4 separate regions of the Homo sapiens genome follow, and all the other regions are reported to be linked to region 1. Evidence: microRNA targets listed by miRTarBase, many of them from high-throughput screens and not tested one by one. Region 1 holds a microRNA gene; each other region holds the end of a gene's coding sequence. Distances are between the middles of the regions.
What was found. Region 1 holds the annotated microRNA hsa-miR-421 (AUCAACAGACAUUAAUUGGGCGC, at 2,431-2,453, opposite strand). A microRNA usually pairs through its seed, bases 2 to 8, with sites in the 3' UTR of a target mRNA and lowers its output. Matches are read on the target gene's strand: a 7mer-m8 pairs with bases 2 to 8, a 7mer-A1 pairs with bases 2 to 7 and ends in A, and an 8mer does both.

Region 1 (4,152 bases):
CCGGTTAATCAACATGTGTGTACTATGACTGGTTTTTTGTTTTTGTTGTTGTTTTTTAAGAGCAGCACTAGCTCACTCTTCAACTCAGAGGCTCAGAAGCCAAAGTACATTATGGAACATGGCCAACAAATGCTTGTAACATGTAACTAACTTAGGTCAAGATCAAGGAAAAATTTAGATCCTAAATAAATCTTTTTATGCCACTTCAAGCTGACCAGCCTGCAGCTCTTTGAAAGAGTTAGGAGACGGCCACAGGATTCCAGCAGTGCTAAAGGCCAACAGCTCCCCTAGCTGTTCTCACCAGGAATTCTTGCGCATTCTCCCACTCCTGAAGTGTGACAGACCCAAAAGAGGGAACAGATGGCATATAGCAAGGTGTCAGGCATAGAGCAAATACTCAATAAAAGAAGGAATCACCTGGATCCCCCCACTCTTCTAAGGCTCATCTACTATCCCACTACAGCCTTTCTTCTCTAGTATTTGCAGTTAACATGTGCCAACCTCCAAGTCATTCCTCACAGTCACTGAAGCCTTTTGTACCTGGCCCAGTGTTCATTCTAAGCCTAGCTTCTACTATAATCCTGGGTTACTATAATAGTCATGTAAATGATCATCTGACATCCTAGCTTCACAGGTATCTTAACCACTCCAGTTTTGAAATCTAACACTCCAAAGTCTACTCTGATTACAGGTCCTATCACTCCAGTTTTCCAATTACTCAGCACTCACCTTGTTCACATTAAAGCCTCTTTTTGGCCCAGACTGAGGCCACTCCTGACCTTACTTCCTTCCATGTCCAGGTTGGATTTTTTTTTTTAAATGAAGTCTCACTCTGTTACCCAGGCTGGAGTACAGTGGGTGGGATCTCGGCTCACTGCAACCTCCGCCTCCTGGGTTCAAGTGATTCTCCTGCCTCAGCCTCCTGAGTAGCTGGGATTACAGGCATGTGCCACCACACCTGGCTAATTTTTGCATTTTTAGTAGAGACAGGGTTTCACCATGTTGGTCAGGCTGGTCTCGAACTCCTGACCTCAGGTGACCTGCCCACCTTGGCCTTCCAAAGTGCTGTGATTACAGGTGTGGGCCACCGCGCCCGGCCTTAGTTTGGATTCTTAAATCCATTTCTGTGTAACTCGTCTCTTGCTAGCTGTCCACCCCTCAATCAATCAAGGCAACCAAATACTGCTAGTGACAATGCCCCAAAACCACTTCATATTTTCCTGAGCTTCTAACCCAGTTTCAAACTCATTTCTTACTTTGATATACCATAAGCTCTCCTGTTAATGGTCTCACTCCAGCGTTTTGGCCTGAATATTCCTTAGGGACTCTGGTTCATATTTAGCCCTCTAGTATTTCTGTTCCAGCAGCTTTTGTCTTCATATTCCTGTTCCTGGTCAGCTTCCTCCCCATCATCCACCTCTACAATTACAAATCTTCACCACCCTTGCCAAGTCCTCTTCCTTACTCCTATCCCTATCTCTGTGCTCCAGCAAAGAGGTAGTTCCACTTACCTAAGGCTAACCCTCCACCTGCATGTGTTCTAGAGCCATAAATTTCACCCTTCCAGCTTCACCTGCATCATCTTTCAAGATCATCTTCCATCTATTATCATCTCTCTCTTTCTCACATCTACAATGACTCCCTTCTCAATTCCTTCTGCCCCATGGTCTGCAAACACACTCAATTTTTTTCTCATGTTAAATGATTCACTGTAAGGCGCTGGATAAGTGGTTTTAACTTGTATTCTGGTTGTCACATCTACAATCAGAAAAGCTTCTCACAAAATAATGATTAAGTACAATAAATAAGATAAAGAAAATATGAACCTGGTGAGAGGTGAACAGGACGGTGGAGGATTACCTGTCAGTGCAGGTAAGGGGATAGCTGGAGTAAAGTTGAAAGGGGAAAACTTTAAATATCAGCCACAGGAGCAAACCTCAGACTGTGAGGATGAGGTTTCTGTTCAGACAATGAGCACTCTGGTCCAACCCAGGGAGCAATTAGCAGCAATTACAGTAGCAGCAACAGCCATGCAACATCAGCAAGTAGCTAAGACCAAAATGCAGGCATAGAAATGAAGTATTTCATAGAAAACAGAGTAGCAAATATGACATATGAGGCACTTGTGCTGCTACTCCCCCTTCTCCGACCCTCAGCAGACATCACTAAATAGTTATAAATGTCTTTCACACTGAGATAAGACCTGGTTTCAGAATCTTGTTATAAAACATAATCAGGGCAGGCATTATCAATCAATTGGAGATGGTACTTGAGATGAAGTGTATTTGCTATCATTGCACTACACAGAAAAGTCCTCAACAAAAGAATTAGAAGACAGGAATAAGCTTCAGGAGTAAGCATTCTGAAGAGAGCTTGGACGTTGTTGGCAACTGGCGGGGACAAGCTGAGCCCATGGAGATCACAGAGCAGGCGCCCAATTAATGTCTGTTGATGATTCATTTTTTCATTCAACAAACATTTAATGAGGCCTACAATGTGCACCGGATTAGGCACTGTGAATACAAAGATGAGTAAGGCACTGTCCTTGCCCTTAAGGAATTTAAAGTCTGGTAGACGAGAGCCATAGACACGGACAATGATAATACAACCTGCTAAGTGCTAGGACACTTAGCAGGTTGTATTATATCCATCCGAGTAGGATTTCTTCAGAGGAGCACCACTCCAGGTTGCTGCTGGATCCATGAAGTCCTCCCAGGCACCAGGGTCTGCTGTTGTTTTTGTCACGTGCTGGGTGTCCCAAGATCTAACAATAATAGCTGTAATTAATGTATAGAGTGCCTATGACAAACACTTTACAAATATCTTCATGGAAACTCTGAAAATTAATAGTTATATTAGAGGAAGAAACTGAAGTTCAACAAGTTTAAGTCACACAGCCAGCAAGCAGTTGAATTAGGTTTCAAATCCAGTTTTGACAAAGTCTAATGCATTTTTCTGTTTTCAGGATAACCTTTATGCAGGTGTAATACAACAACTTTTCAACAGCTTTCTATTTGGAACTAAAAGCAAAGGCAATAGATTAGTCACTAGATCATGGAGTGATTAATTTGGTTTCCCACTCTACCTGGCAGAGAAATAAAAGGTGAAATGACCTCACACTTACATACCATTGAAAACCTTCAAGTCAGTTACTGTTTTTCTTTCTCAACCCTAACATCGTCACTGATCATTCAAAATATAAGTACCTCTAGTCAAATCTCTTCTTTTAATACTTGTCATAGTCAACACCATTATCAGCAACAACAGTTGACACAGCATTTAGCTGTATATTCCAGGCCTGTTCTAAGCAATTTACATAATTAGTCCCTTTAAGTACTTTTTACCCCCATCATTGAAAATAAATATTATTCCTATTTTACATAAGAGAAAACAGAGTCCTGGGGAAGTGAAGAATCATGCTCAAGACCACATTGCTAAGTGTGAGAGCAGATTTGAGCCCAGGCTACCTGGTCCCAAGACCCAAACTCTCACTTTACATAGCTCTGCTGCACTGCTCAGGGCCTCCTTTCCCAACTCTTGATGGCAAGTTACACAAGGCCCCCTGAAAAACCCAGTCCTACTTACATAAAATCTCATCACTAACCATTCTGGTCATAGAAAGCCATTCTCTAAATCCCAAATATCAATACTCAGAGCCTTAATTGGAAAATTTCCCGAAGAACATTGAGTTTAGAATATACCTTTGCAAAAAGAGAAAATAAACACTCGATATGTTTAGGTTTTTAATTATTGAATTTTTTTTTTACTTGCAGATATAGTCATAAACGTTTTAAGATCCATAAGCAAACTAAAGCAATTATGCCAATAATGACTAAGGCCACTGCTTCCTCAATTGAGTCTTTGATATAAAAGCCTTCACTTTTGGTTAATTACAAAAAAAAAAAAAAAAAAAAAAAAAAAAACCGTGGGAGATATGTGACAGTGAGAGTAGGCCTGCTACTGATGAGAAGGACCAGCAACTTAGCAACACCATAAAATGTCTGCTGCAATTCAGGTGTCTAGGTGTCTCCCTGAGAATCAACATTTCATATACAGCTGTTCCCAGAAAACAATCTTGCACAATCTGTACAGTCAAGTTATGATCTAAAAGGAGTTAATTGCAACATTCATCCAAAGAATATGACAGTATTT
Region 2 (4,000 bases), not on the chromosome of region 1:
TACCTGGAGCACGTGGGCCACAACCACACATACAACATGGCACCCAGTGCCCTGGACTCAGCCGACCTGCCACCACCCAGTGCCCTCAAGAAAGGCAGCAAGGAGAAGCAGGCTGACTTCCTGGACAAGCAGATGAGCCGGGATGAGCACCGAGCCCGAGCCATGAAGATCCCTTTCACCAATGACAAAATCATCAACCTGCCTGTGGAGGAGTTCAATGAACTGCTGTCCAAATACCAGTTGAGTGAAGCCCAGCTGAGCCTCATCCGAGACATCCGGCGCCGGGGCAAGAACAAGATGGCGGCGCAGAACTGCCGCAAGCGCAAGCTGGACACCATCCTGAATCTGGAGCGTGATGTGGAGGACCTGCAGCGTGACAAAGCCCGGCTGCTGCGGGAGAAAGTGGAGTTCCTGCGCTCCCTGCGACAGATGAAGCAGAAGGTCCAGAGCCTGTACCAGGAGGTGTTTGGGCGGCTGCGAGATGAGAACGGACGACCCTACTCGCCCAGTCAGTATGCGCTCCAGTACGCCGGGGACGGCAGTGTCCTCCTCATCCCCCGCACGATGGCCGACCAGCAGGCCCGGCGGCAGGAGAGGAAGCCAAAGGACCGGAGAAAGTGAGCCTGGGGAAGAAGGGGGTTTGAAGCCCACCAAGACCGAAACTGGAGAAGGGCTGGACCTGGACCTGGACCTGGACCTACAGCGGGGACTTAAATGCCTTCTTATCCAATATATCTTCTCAGATGGGATGACTGCGGGTCAGTGTACAGGAAGAGGCAGGCACTGGCTGGCTCAGCTCCACTCGGGTGGAGTGGAAGTGGCCAGACCATTTAGACGGACAGGGTCCTCACCCTACCCCTTTCCTGTGAGGCAGGGGTGGTGGTGGAGTTGCTGGAGGTAGAGGAGCTATGTGGAGCAAAGGCCGACAGAGGGGAAGGAATGGACCTGTGAGAGGAAGGGAAGGTGGCAGAAAGTCTCATTTCAGGAAGGAGGGATAGAAGGAAGGAAGGAAGGAACCCCCCCCCCCCCGAAAAAAAAATCAAAGCGGGAAGAAAATCAGAGGGAAGGTTAAGGTTGGCTCTGGCCAGGATTCCAGGCAGCAGGTTGGAGTGACTGGTGGGCCTAGATCACTGGTGTGATAAACCCCAATTTTCACCCCGGGGGGGGTGGGGTACACAGACACAGGGTGGGGGTGGGGAGGGACGGTGTTAACTCTTTCTGCTCCTTGCATTTTGACATCCCTGAAGGGGAGCTCTTGGATATCATTGGCCATGTTTCAATCGAATGGAGCCACTGGGCCCCAACACTGGCTTTGAGATTTAGAGTCAAAGGGTAGAGTGAACAGGAAAGGGTCACGTGGTCCCATGTTGCAACAGCCCCAACATCACGCATGTCATTCACTGCCTTGCCACTCCATCTCCCTCCGTGCTCCAGCCACCCCTGAGCTGAGGCTCCCATTGTCTCCATCAGAGCCTGCATGTGTATGCCGTCCTCCCCTGGTCCGGTGTTTGTGTTCCCCACCCCTCACAGACTGCCTGAGCTCTTCTGTAAGCTGGGGTAGGGTGATGGCAGTGCTCCGGGAACTGGGCCTGCAGCCTTCCTCTTCTGGGACTGCTGTGAGGCAGAGGAATGATGGAGAATCTAGTGTAGCAGCCTCCAGGCAGGATTCAGCACAACACTGGGGAGTCACCCTTCCCTCGGGCCTCTGCCTACCAACAACTGGGCTTATCACTGGGAAAACACAAAAAATTACACAACCCAGCAACAACAAAAGAACTAGTCCTCTTAGAATTTCTTGCGCTTTGATTTTTTTAGGGCTTGTGCCCTGTTTCACTTATAGGGTCTAGAATGCTTGTGTTGAGTAAAAAGGAGATGCCCAATATTCAAAGCTGCTAAATGTTCTCTTTGCCATAAAGACTCCGTGTAACTGTGTGAACACTTGGGATTTTTCTCCTCTGTCCCGAGGTCGTCGTCTGCTTTCTTTTTTGGGTTTCTTTCTAGAAGATTGAGAAGTGCATATGACAGGCTGAGAGCACCTCCCCAAACACACAAGCTCTCAGCCACAGGCAGCTTCTCCACAGCCCCAGCTTCGCACAGGCTCCTGGAGGGCTGCCTGGGGGAGGCAGACATGGGAGTGCCAAGGTGGCCAGATGGTTCCAGGACTACAATGTCTTTATTTTTAACTGTTTGCCACTGCTGCCCTCACCCCTGCCCGGCTCTGGAGTACCGTCTGCCCCAGACAAGTGGGAGTGAAATGGGGGTGGGGGGAAGCACTGATTCCCAGTTAGGGGGTGCCTAACTGAGCAGTAGGGATAGAAGGTGTGAACCTGGGAGTGCTTTTATAAATTATTTTCCTTGTAGATTTTATTTTTAATTTATCTCTGTGACCTGCCAGGGAGAGGGGAGAGAGAGAGAGATGCTGTTGAGCACATGACAAAATAAAATAAAATGGATGATTCATTCTTAAGTGCACTTTTTCCCCACTTTGAATTTAAATTGAGAATAAAGGAAATGGACTCATTGTAGGGAGGACTGGCCATTGCGTGGCTAAGGCAGAGCTCACATGGGAAGATGGGTGGAGAACTGGGGAGGTTGACAGTGGGGAACTTCAAAAGGCAAGTCTTAAATATTGTATTAAACCTTGGGGGCAGGCATTAGACACCATGTACTTCATAGGGTTAGCCAGCTCAATCCTCTCAGGAAGGATTCGGAGTTTTTTTATTCTCATACAGCTAGGATAGGTGGAGGTGTCATTTAACCCAGCTCTTTACCTGTCCACCTGCTACAAACTACATTTTTAAACTCAACTGTGCTGTTATTTTTCTATTGGCCTCACCTGCCAAAGGGGTGCAGAGAATTGGAGTGTAGTTATGATGTTGAAAACCTGAGAAATCCATGGCAGCGACTAACATGTGACAAGCACTACTGTGTTAAGCAGGAGCAGGGCCACTAAAGAGAAGCAGGAGGCCAAGGTTTAGGACACTGGGAAACCTCCCCAGCTGAGGGGGCTAGAATCTGCTTTCCCTCAAACTGCTCAACTACCCGCCCTGTGAAGAGCTGTAATGTGTGAAGGTCTCTGGGATGCTGGAACTTCCACATGCCCATGTTAGGGCAGGTGTTTAGTAGATGCTGGAAGAATGAACACTCACTCAGCAGTCTTTTTATTGGCAGGGTCTTGCTTTGTCTCCCAGGCTGGAGTGCAGTGACGTGATCTCGGCTCACTGCAACTGCCACTGGGCTCAAGCCATCTTCCCACCTCCGCCTCCTGAATAGCTGGGACTACAGGCGCACGCCACCACGCCTAGGTAATTTTTGTAGAGACAAGCTTTCGCTATATTGCCCAGGCTGGTCTCAAACTCCTGGCATCAAGTGATCCGCCTGCCTCAGCCTCCCAAAGTGCTGGGATTATAGGCGTGAGCCATTGCACCTGGCTTCTGTGAGATTATTGGGCAGGGTTTAGGAGTGGAAGCTATGATCCTCTTAATGGAAGCTGTGATCTCAAACTCCTGGATACCACCCTGTAACCTGGTTCAGCTCAGTCCTTTAGTGATACTACTTCAGTAATGTTTACAATTCAGTAGAATTGTAAGAATAATGATGGTTTCTTATGTTTCAGTTTATAAGAGCCTCTCCACAACTCCCCAGTCTCCAGTTGGAAAGGTTTGGTCATATCAAACAAGAACTCTTTCCTAATTCAGAATTGACTAAAGTCTGTAAGCCAGATAAAACCAAGATACGTAAAGGGGTGAAAAAACCAAGACTAAAAATTAGTTTGAGGCCTGGTGCGGTGGCTCACGCCTATAATCCCAGCACTTTGGGAGGCCGAGGCAGATGGATCACCTGAGGTCAGGAGTTCAAACACGAGCCTAACCAACATGGTAAAACCGTCTCTACTAAAAATACAAAAACTAGGCGGGTGTGGTGGCGGGCGCCTGTAATCCCAGCTACTCAGAGACTGAGGCAGGAGAATCGCTTGAACCCGGGAGGCAGAGGTTTCAGT
Region 3 (4,000 bases), not on the chromosome of region 1:
ATTCTTGATTCTGAATACAGGCAACTTGTGTACATTTTTAAACACTACTTTCTGTTTTTTGAACTTGGGAAAAGTTTGCCTAATTACAATGCAATTTTTCTCTAAGTTTATGAATAAAATATAAAGACCTAAATGGAATCTCTTTTCTTTTTCTCCTCCTCCTACCCTTTTTACTTTAAAGGGAATTTACACTGGGAGAGTGCTTAGCCTTCAAGAATTATTGATCCAAGTGGGAAAGTTAAATCCTGAAGCTGTTAGAGGTCAGTGGGCCAATCTTTCATGGGAATTACTTTATGCCACAAACGATGATGAAGAACGTTATAGTATACAAGCTCATCCACTACTTTTAAGAAATCTTACGGTACAAGCAGCAGAACCTCCCCTGGGATATCCGATTTATTCTTCAAAACCTCTCCACATACATTTGTATTAGAGCTCATTTTGACTGTAATGTCATCAAATGCAATGTTTTTATTTTTTCATCCTAAAAAAGTAACTGTGATTCTTGTAACTTGAGGACTTCTCCACACCCCCATTCAGATGCCTGAGAACAGCTAAGCTCCGTAAAGTTGGTTCTCTTAGCCATCTTAATGGTTCTAAAAAACAGCAAAAACATCTTTATGTCTAAGATAAAAGAACTATTTGGCCAATATTTGTGCCCTCTGGACTTTAGTAGGCTTTGGTAAATGTGAGAAAACTTTTGTAGAATTATCATATAATGAATTTTGTAATGCTTTCTTAAATGTGTTATAGGTGAATTGCCATACAAAGTTAACAGCTATGTAATTTTTACATACTTAAGAGATAAACATATCAGTGTTCTAAGTAGTGATAATGGATCCTGTTGAAGGTTAACATAATGTGTATATATTTGTTTGAAATATAATTTATAGTATTTTCAAATGTGCTGATTTATTTTGACATCTAATATCTGAATGTTTTTGTATCAAGTAGTTTGTTTTCATAGACTTCAATTCATAAACTTTAAAAAACTTTTAATAAAATATTTTCCTTCCTTTTCAAATATCCTTCTAATATATGTGAAAGGAGCGGGGTTCATCCCATTCATCATGTGAATATTCACAGGAAGAGCAATGTTAGGGTAATCTGCATATGACTACTAAAGCATATATCTGACTCATTATGTATTTCTTTCAACTGAATTTACTGCTTCTGAAAAATGATTTACCCAACAGGACTACCAGTTACTAGTGTCTTAAGGTATATGAACTAAAGTCAGAAGGAGATGGAAGAAAATTTTTATAATACGATCTGAATTTTATTTTCATTCTCTTCTTGCTTAGGAACGTTTTACAGATACATGTAAGGGGGATTAATAATGAATCCACATCAGTTGAGAGATCAGTTTCCTCTAATTCTTACTTAATTTCCAATGAAATCAGTAGGAGCCCCCTAGATTTATAATAATGTATTCTCCTTAGAAATCATTCAAATTATATGAAATGTACCAGTTAAGTTGTTATTAGTATTCCATTTATTTAGTATGTGGACGAGTTCACTCTAACAATGTTAAAGGATAAACTTTTTGGACCAATTTTCAGTTAATGAATTCAAGAGATTTGTATGTTATTCTTTTTTTGGAGGTAATATAGTACAGTTACTAAGATAGGATTTTGTATTACTCTGAGTTTACATCTCAGACTTATGATTTAATTTACATGATTGAGATTTGCTAGCTGTACACCTTTATATCTTTGTCATGTAGAAATATTTTCTCATGTCGTTAAAAGTACTTGTAATTATCAGCTTTTTTTTTTTTCCGAGATGGAATCTCGCTCTGTCACCCAGGCTGGGGTGCAGTGGCACGATCTCAGCTCACTGCAACCTCCGCCTTCTGGGTTCAAGCGATTCTCCTGGCTCAGCCTCCTGAGTAGCTGGGATTAAAGGCGCATGCCACCACGCCGGCTAATTTTTGTATTTTTAGTAGAGACAGAGTTTCACCATGTTGGCCAGGCTGGTCTCGAACTCTTGACCTCATGCTCCGCCCGCCTCAGCCTCCCAAAGTGCTGGGATTACAGGCGTGAGCCACCGTGCCCAGCCATAATTATCACTTTTAATGACAGCATAAAATTCCATTGATAGATATTATTTATTGGACTACTGTCCCCCAAATAATGTGAATTTTAAGTTGTTTAGAGATTTTCACTGTGATAATAATGTCAAGCTATGCCTTCGCTTAACCTTGCATCCTCCTCAAAGTGCTCCCATATCTCCATTTCATTCATAGCCAGGTTTTCTCTTTCATTTACTTGTCAAATCATTCCAATCTGGATCCCATCTCCATGACTCTCCCAAATTAAAAAAAAAAAAAGTTTTTATTAAGGTCACTATTGACCTTTTTATTGTCAAACCAGCTAGTAGTAATTGACACATTTGACCATTCCTTGAAGCAGCTTTTGTGTTTTCTTTTGAACTTTCCTGACACTACATTATCTTTGTTTTCTTCTTATCTTCCTAGCAACTCCTCAAACATCTTTGCTGCCTCTCCTCTTCTACCTGACCTCTAAATTTTAGAATTTCTCAACAATTGATTCTAGGCCCCCCTTTGTGTTTCTGCAATCACCATAGATAATCTCATCTACTTCAAGACTTGAAATATCATCAATAAATTGATGATGATCAAATATATGTACCTAACCCAACCTCTCTTCTTACACTGAACCTATATATATCACTTATTTGGTATCTTCACTTGGTATATTAAAAACTGACTGTTAGATTTTGAAGGGAAGGTGAGAGTTAAAGAAAGACACACAGAGGGCAGCTTGACAGCAAATGCAGACTTTATGTCTAGCATAAAACCTACAGAAGTGGGGGACCAGCTTAATGCCAGAGCCCACCGCTGCTTACAGGCTGGGCGTACTTATAGGCATGGGTGAGAGGGGTCTGGGCAGTATGGCTTGCTGCTCGGCAGGATATTGATAAGATGCTCCCATGATGAGGTGGTTCTGGCCCTTGTTGTGGTGGGATGTCATCATAGTATTCCTTGGAACTTTGCCCAGCAAGATATGATAGGGATATTTCTTAGGTTGGGCCTTTTTCCGCCTTGTGGTCAGGTGGTTAGGCAGCATGTTTCTCACTGCCCGAACCCCTGTGAAATGTTTTACTTTGATCAAGGTCTGCAAAATAGCGGGGAGCTTACAAAATGGTGCAGTTTGGACTAACACTAACGTTACTGAATTTTCCCTAAAACCTACTTTTCTACTTCTAACTTTTAGTGGTGCATTCATACCAACTATTTCAGAGAACTAGCAATGCCAGGCAAAATAGTATTTTAAAATCTGCTTAAAGGCATTAGAGAACCAAAAGACAGTGAAGAATAACATCACTAAGATCTAAGACAGAATGAAACTTAGAGACCTGAGCTCAGCATTTGGGCTGCTTTTCTTATAGGAGACATGCCAATTCAGGATAAGGTGGTTGAGAGTCTGAGACGCTAAGTAACACTTATAACAGCCTTGCTGCTGAGTTAGAGGGACAAAAACTGGAGACCAAGACTCTCCAAGGAAGTAGGGGAGGGGAAAGGAATCCTAGTTAACTGACCATACATTGGGTTGTGACCCCAAGGACCATATCCAAATTGTAAGGGTGAAGAAAAACCAGATGCAGTTAGGATCTTCTCACTTCCCAAAACTGGATTCAGGTGACCCTTTGCTGCAGCCGCTACCCAGAGCAAATGTAAATCCTCTCTGGACTGATCTTTTGAGTTATTTTTATAACTTTTCATGTTTAGTGTTGGAAAGTTATTTAAGGTATCTGAGGAAACAAGACAACATGATGAAAATCCGAAAGAAGCGACAGATGATGGGACAGAGCCACAGGGGACCCAGATAATGAGCTATACAACACAGGGTCTAAAATTACTATGTTTAGTGTGTTTAAAGATCTAAAACACAAGATTGAGAATTTCAGCAGAAAATCAGAAACTATATAGAAGAATCAATCAACAAGTCCCCAACTTAAAAGTACATTAATCAAG
Region 4 (4,000 bases), 62 Mb from region 1:
CTCAGCATGACTGGGAGCTCACTAGCAGTTCAGGCCGGCTGACTCAGAACCCACATTCTAGCAAGACTGCCCATCAAAGCAGGAGAAGCATCATCCTGTAGGAAAGGTCTCCTGATTTCCAGCAACCCAACTGTTCAACTACATGTGAACTCTTGCTTATTCACCCATTTCTAGTAATTGCATTCCTCACTGTGTGATGAAAGATCTAACACATGTATTTTCCACGTATGATGCATGTTGGCAACATGTCCATTCTGGATATGATGTGGGATAGCCTCCCAGTTGCTGTGCCTGTCACCATGCAAAGGGAGTGGTGCTGGCTAGGTACATCCCAGGCCCTGAGACAATTTGCTGGGGACTTGTATTCTGCTCATTGGTTAGATATCCCATAATTTACACCGGAGGGAAGGCTGAAGGCAAGAAATAGCCATCGATAAACTCATGTTGAGTTTAGAAGGTGGATTCCAGAGAAGCACTTGGTCTTTTGACCAGAATAACATAAAAACAAATACACACTAAAGTCATCCAGTTCAAAAGATTTAACTAGTTTATTGAGGAGTTTCTTGCTTCTTTGGAGTATAAACATGATTTCCAAGTTATTGCTTTCAACTTAATCTATTGAAACCCCTTTACCCAAGTGTATATCAAGTTCCTTAACACCATCTTGGCCAGATTTCATAACTGATGAAAACATTCAATGATCAAACCCTCTGCACTGAAAACCAGTTAATAGAAGCATACTTTATTTTTGGGACAATGGAAGGGTTAATTTTGGAAAATGCTGACCTTTATGGGTTACATTACACTTTTGTATATTATGAACTGATTAAAGTAACACACTTCCTTAATACCAAACTTGATTTAGTAAAAATGATGGTCAGTGCCTGTAAAAATTATCTTAACTGTATTCCAACAAGGACCATGCCTTATTTCTTCCCGTTTCCAATACCTAGTAGTTTCTGGCAGCAGAATAAGTAGTCAATAACTGCTCAGAAAAACTTAACTGTTGACAAGCCAAATCTTAAAGGGCAAAGGCTATTGAACTATCTTTTTAACTGCAAAACAGGGTCATTATACTTGTTCAAATTTTTGAGTTGACAATATCTAATGAGAGACAGCAACTTTTATAAATTGATAAGTTTTCTTTGGCTTCTTTAGTGTACGTCATACCCTGGAATGATTTATATATTCCATTTCTGCTCAGAAATGGTTTTTTTGTTCTCACAAGTTTTTGTCAAAGATCTAGTACAAGGGTCTGATACAGAAATTATTGAAATATTGTTTTCAACATGCCTTTAAATTACTACTAAAAGGAAAACATTGACAATGAATATAAGACTTAACAACTGTAAGGTTTGGCAGTTTAAGAAAGTAACAATTTAAAAATTAACAAAAGGAAGATAATTTGTAATTTGTATAAGGATTATATAGACATTTAAATATTTTTATCTGAGGAATATTTTGAATTATTAGTAATAAACAATAGAGGGTTAGATGTTTTGATGAAAAATTAGTACTTAAATCAACCAAAGCTGCACAGCATCAACTGTTTTTATTTCTTTTTTTGAGACGGAGTCTCGCTCTGTTGCCCAGGCTGGAGTGCAGTGGCGCCATCTCAGCTCACTGCAAGCTCCACCTCCTGGGTTCACACCATTCTCCTGCCTCAGCCTCCCGAGTAGCTGGGACTACAGGCGCCCGCCACCACGCCCGGCTAATTATTTTGTATTTTCAGTAAAGACGAGGTTTCACCATGTTAGCCAGGATGATCTCGATCTCCTGACCTCATGATCCGCCTGTCTCAGCCTCCCAAAGTGCTGGGATTACAGGCGTGAGCCACTGCGCCCGGCCACATCATCAACTTTTGAAGTTATATTTAAGAAATGCCTTCAGGGGAAGAAAATAATTGTTCATTATTAGAAAATGAATTAACTGTAAACTCAAGGTATGTGCCTATATAAATGTCTGTGCTCACTTCATTGGAGACATTTAAACAAGTTGAGTCTTACAAAGGAAAATCTTTTTCCTTTTCCTGGCCATAAGTAATTACTGATTCAGCTTTTTAAGCAATTCAGAGCACACTGCAGGTGCGCCAGATTCAAACAAGCATTGCATAAACCAAATGGAGATAAAAGCTACCAGGAACCTGAGTACTACTCCGGATGAGACACCAAAACCCACGTCTAACTTAGCAACTAAGTGCACAGTATTAATTCTCATTGGTCAGTGTATGCATAAGTCACTTTGATGAAACCATCTACAGATTTTTAAAAAATCTTTGTGGCCCTTGTTCACAACCAGTGATCTTTGGAAGTTAAGGTCTGCTGAGTTGAGTTACAAGGCAGGTGCTATATTCAATGCTGGTATGGTACTGATACCATTTCTACGAAGTTAGAACTTTCTAAAACATCTGAAGATAGGGGAGGCATGTGCGACTAAAATAAGGATTAGAGGAGTGACTGCAGAGACTGTCAGTTGGTAATGAGGGAGGAGGAGGATAAGCTGGTGTTAGCCCCAGATGAGACCACAATGCAGCAACAAGACAGCACAGAACTGCAGGAACTTCTAGGAACCACTGTCTGGTCCTGCTGCCAAGTGAGGCAAAACCAAAGAGGGATTTAACAAAAAAAGGCACAAAGGAAAAACAAAATGAAACCTAAAGTTATGAGTCAAAAGGTTACCCCACTGTTACCCTGCATTAAAGAGGACAAGGCCAGAGTGAAAACTCTCTCTCCTGGTTCTTTCAAACAAGACAGGCTTTATTTAGATCACCAAAAATAACATTTTACAGAAAGGGAACCATAACATTACACAACAAAGTATAGCTGTAAAATCTCAAATAAGAAAGGCAATGCTTTCTTTAGATCACCAAAAATAATGTTTCACAGAGAGGGAACCGTTAGAAGCAAATGCATAGCTGCAAATTTTCTTTTGCCATCAATATCGATTCCCTCTAAAATACTTTGAGACTACTTTGTGGTTTCCGAGTACAAACTAAACCTTTTTGGACAGAGTTGCTCGGCTTCATCAAAAAAATAAAACCAATTTGCAAAAAAAAATTTGTTTAATGCTAACAAATAAAGAGACAATGTGGTTCTTGCTAACTAACTGCAATGTCTACTGAAATGGCCTAACCTATTCCACGAATATTTCACTGTGAACATAGTTGCTTTTTCCTTGCCATCACAGATGGCCTGCAAAGTAACAAGTGTCGTGTCAGAGCACTTTCAGGCACCCAGGGAATCATTCCTAACAGAATAACTGCAGTATGTGGGCAACTCAAACAACAGAGCCCCAAGGTGGGCATTGTGTTTGCGCTGTGGGTAAAGACCCACCACCTTGTTAGTTATTCACCTGGAACCCAGAGCGCCAAACTAGACAGAGCAGTTGCTCTTACAGAACCAACAACATTTTAATAAATTGCCCGGGGGTTCTTGGTGCTGTAATGTGCCTCACAGGCAGCGACATAAGCCGACTCTGGGAAGAAGTCATCGTGGTATTCTGCTAAAAACCTGGAAAAAAAAAATAGCCCCAATGAGCACCATACTAAGGACTAAATACCATCAAGCAAAATATTGACTTTCAACCTACTAACATTTCAACTGTTTTTTGGTATTAGGAAGAAAAAAATGACTATAATTTTGATCTCTCTATACTGATTATTTTCACTGCACTTATCCAGCTTCTATGTGAATTACTACTTATCTGAATGCCTTCACCATCATCAGGTGTACAAATGGAAACAGAACCTACACTCCACTAGGTGGCAGTCTGGTTATATAAACACTTCTGTTGGGGGCGGAAAAAAAAAAGCCCATGAATGTTTCTACATTTTTCTGTTGTTCAAACAAACTATTAAAAACAACAGATTATAGGCTGGGCACTGTGGTTCACGCCTGTAATCCCAGCACTTTGGGAGGCCGAGGCAGGTGGTCACGAGGTCAGGAGATCGAGAACATCCTGGCTAACACAGTGAAACCCCGTCTCTACTAAAAACACAAAA

Region 2: the mRNA of NFE2L1 is a reported target of hsa-miR-421. Seed matches in the 3' UTR shown: 7mer-m8 at 2,420-2,426.
Region 3: miRTarBase lists PCNX4 as a target of hsa-miR-421. Seed matches in the 3' UTR shown: 8mer at 842-849.
Region 4: miRTarBase lists MSL3 as a target of hsa-miR-421. The part of its 3' UTR that is shown has no 7-base or 8-base seed match.

The regions. Positions count from the first base shown.
Region 1 is chrX:74,215,962-74,220,113 of GRCh38, forward strand. It overlaps MIR421 (microRNA 421), which reads right to left and starts at 2,500; the gene lies at 2,416-2,500. The region is part of intron 5 of FTX (FTX transcript, XIST regulator); the gene reads right to left. MIR374B (microRNA 374b) reads right to left here and starts at 2,657; the gene lies at 2,586-2,657. MIR374C (microRNA 374c) reads left to right here and starts at 2,588; the gene lies at 2,588-2,657.
Region 2 is chr17:48,059,021-48,063,020 of GRCh38, forward strand. NFE2L1 (NFE2 like bZIP transcription factor 1) reads left to right here. Exons shown (of 6, transcript NM_003204.3): 6 at 1-2,525. The coding sequence ends at 621. Among named protein-coding and RNA genes, the nearest start is that of NFE2L1, 13 kb to the left of the region's middle.
Region 3 is chr14:60,133,789-60,137,788 of GRCh38, forward strand. It overlaps PCNX4 (pecanex 4), which reads left to right. Exons shown (of 11, transcript NM_001330177.2): 11 at 182-4,000. The coding sequence ends at 433. Among named protein-coding and RNA genes, the nearest start is that of DHRS7, 30 kb to the right of the region's middle.
Region 4 is chrX:11,774,489-11,778,488 of GRCh38, reverse strand. MSL3 (MSL complex subunit 3) reads right to left here. Exons shown (of 13, transcript NM_078629.4): 13 at 2,717-3,509. The coding sequence ends at 3,410. Among named protein-coding and RNA genes, the nearest start is that of MSL3, 18 kb to the right of the region's middle.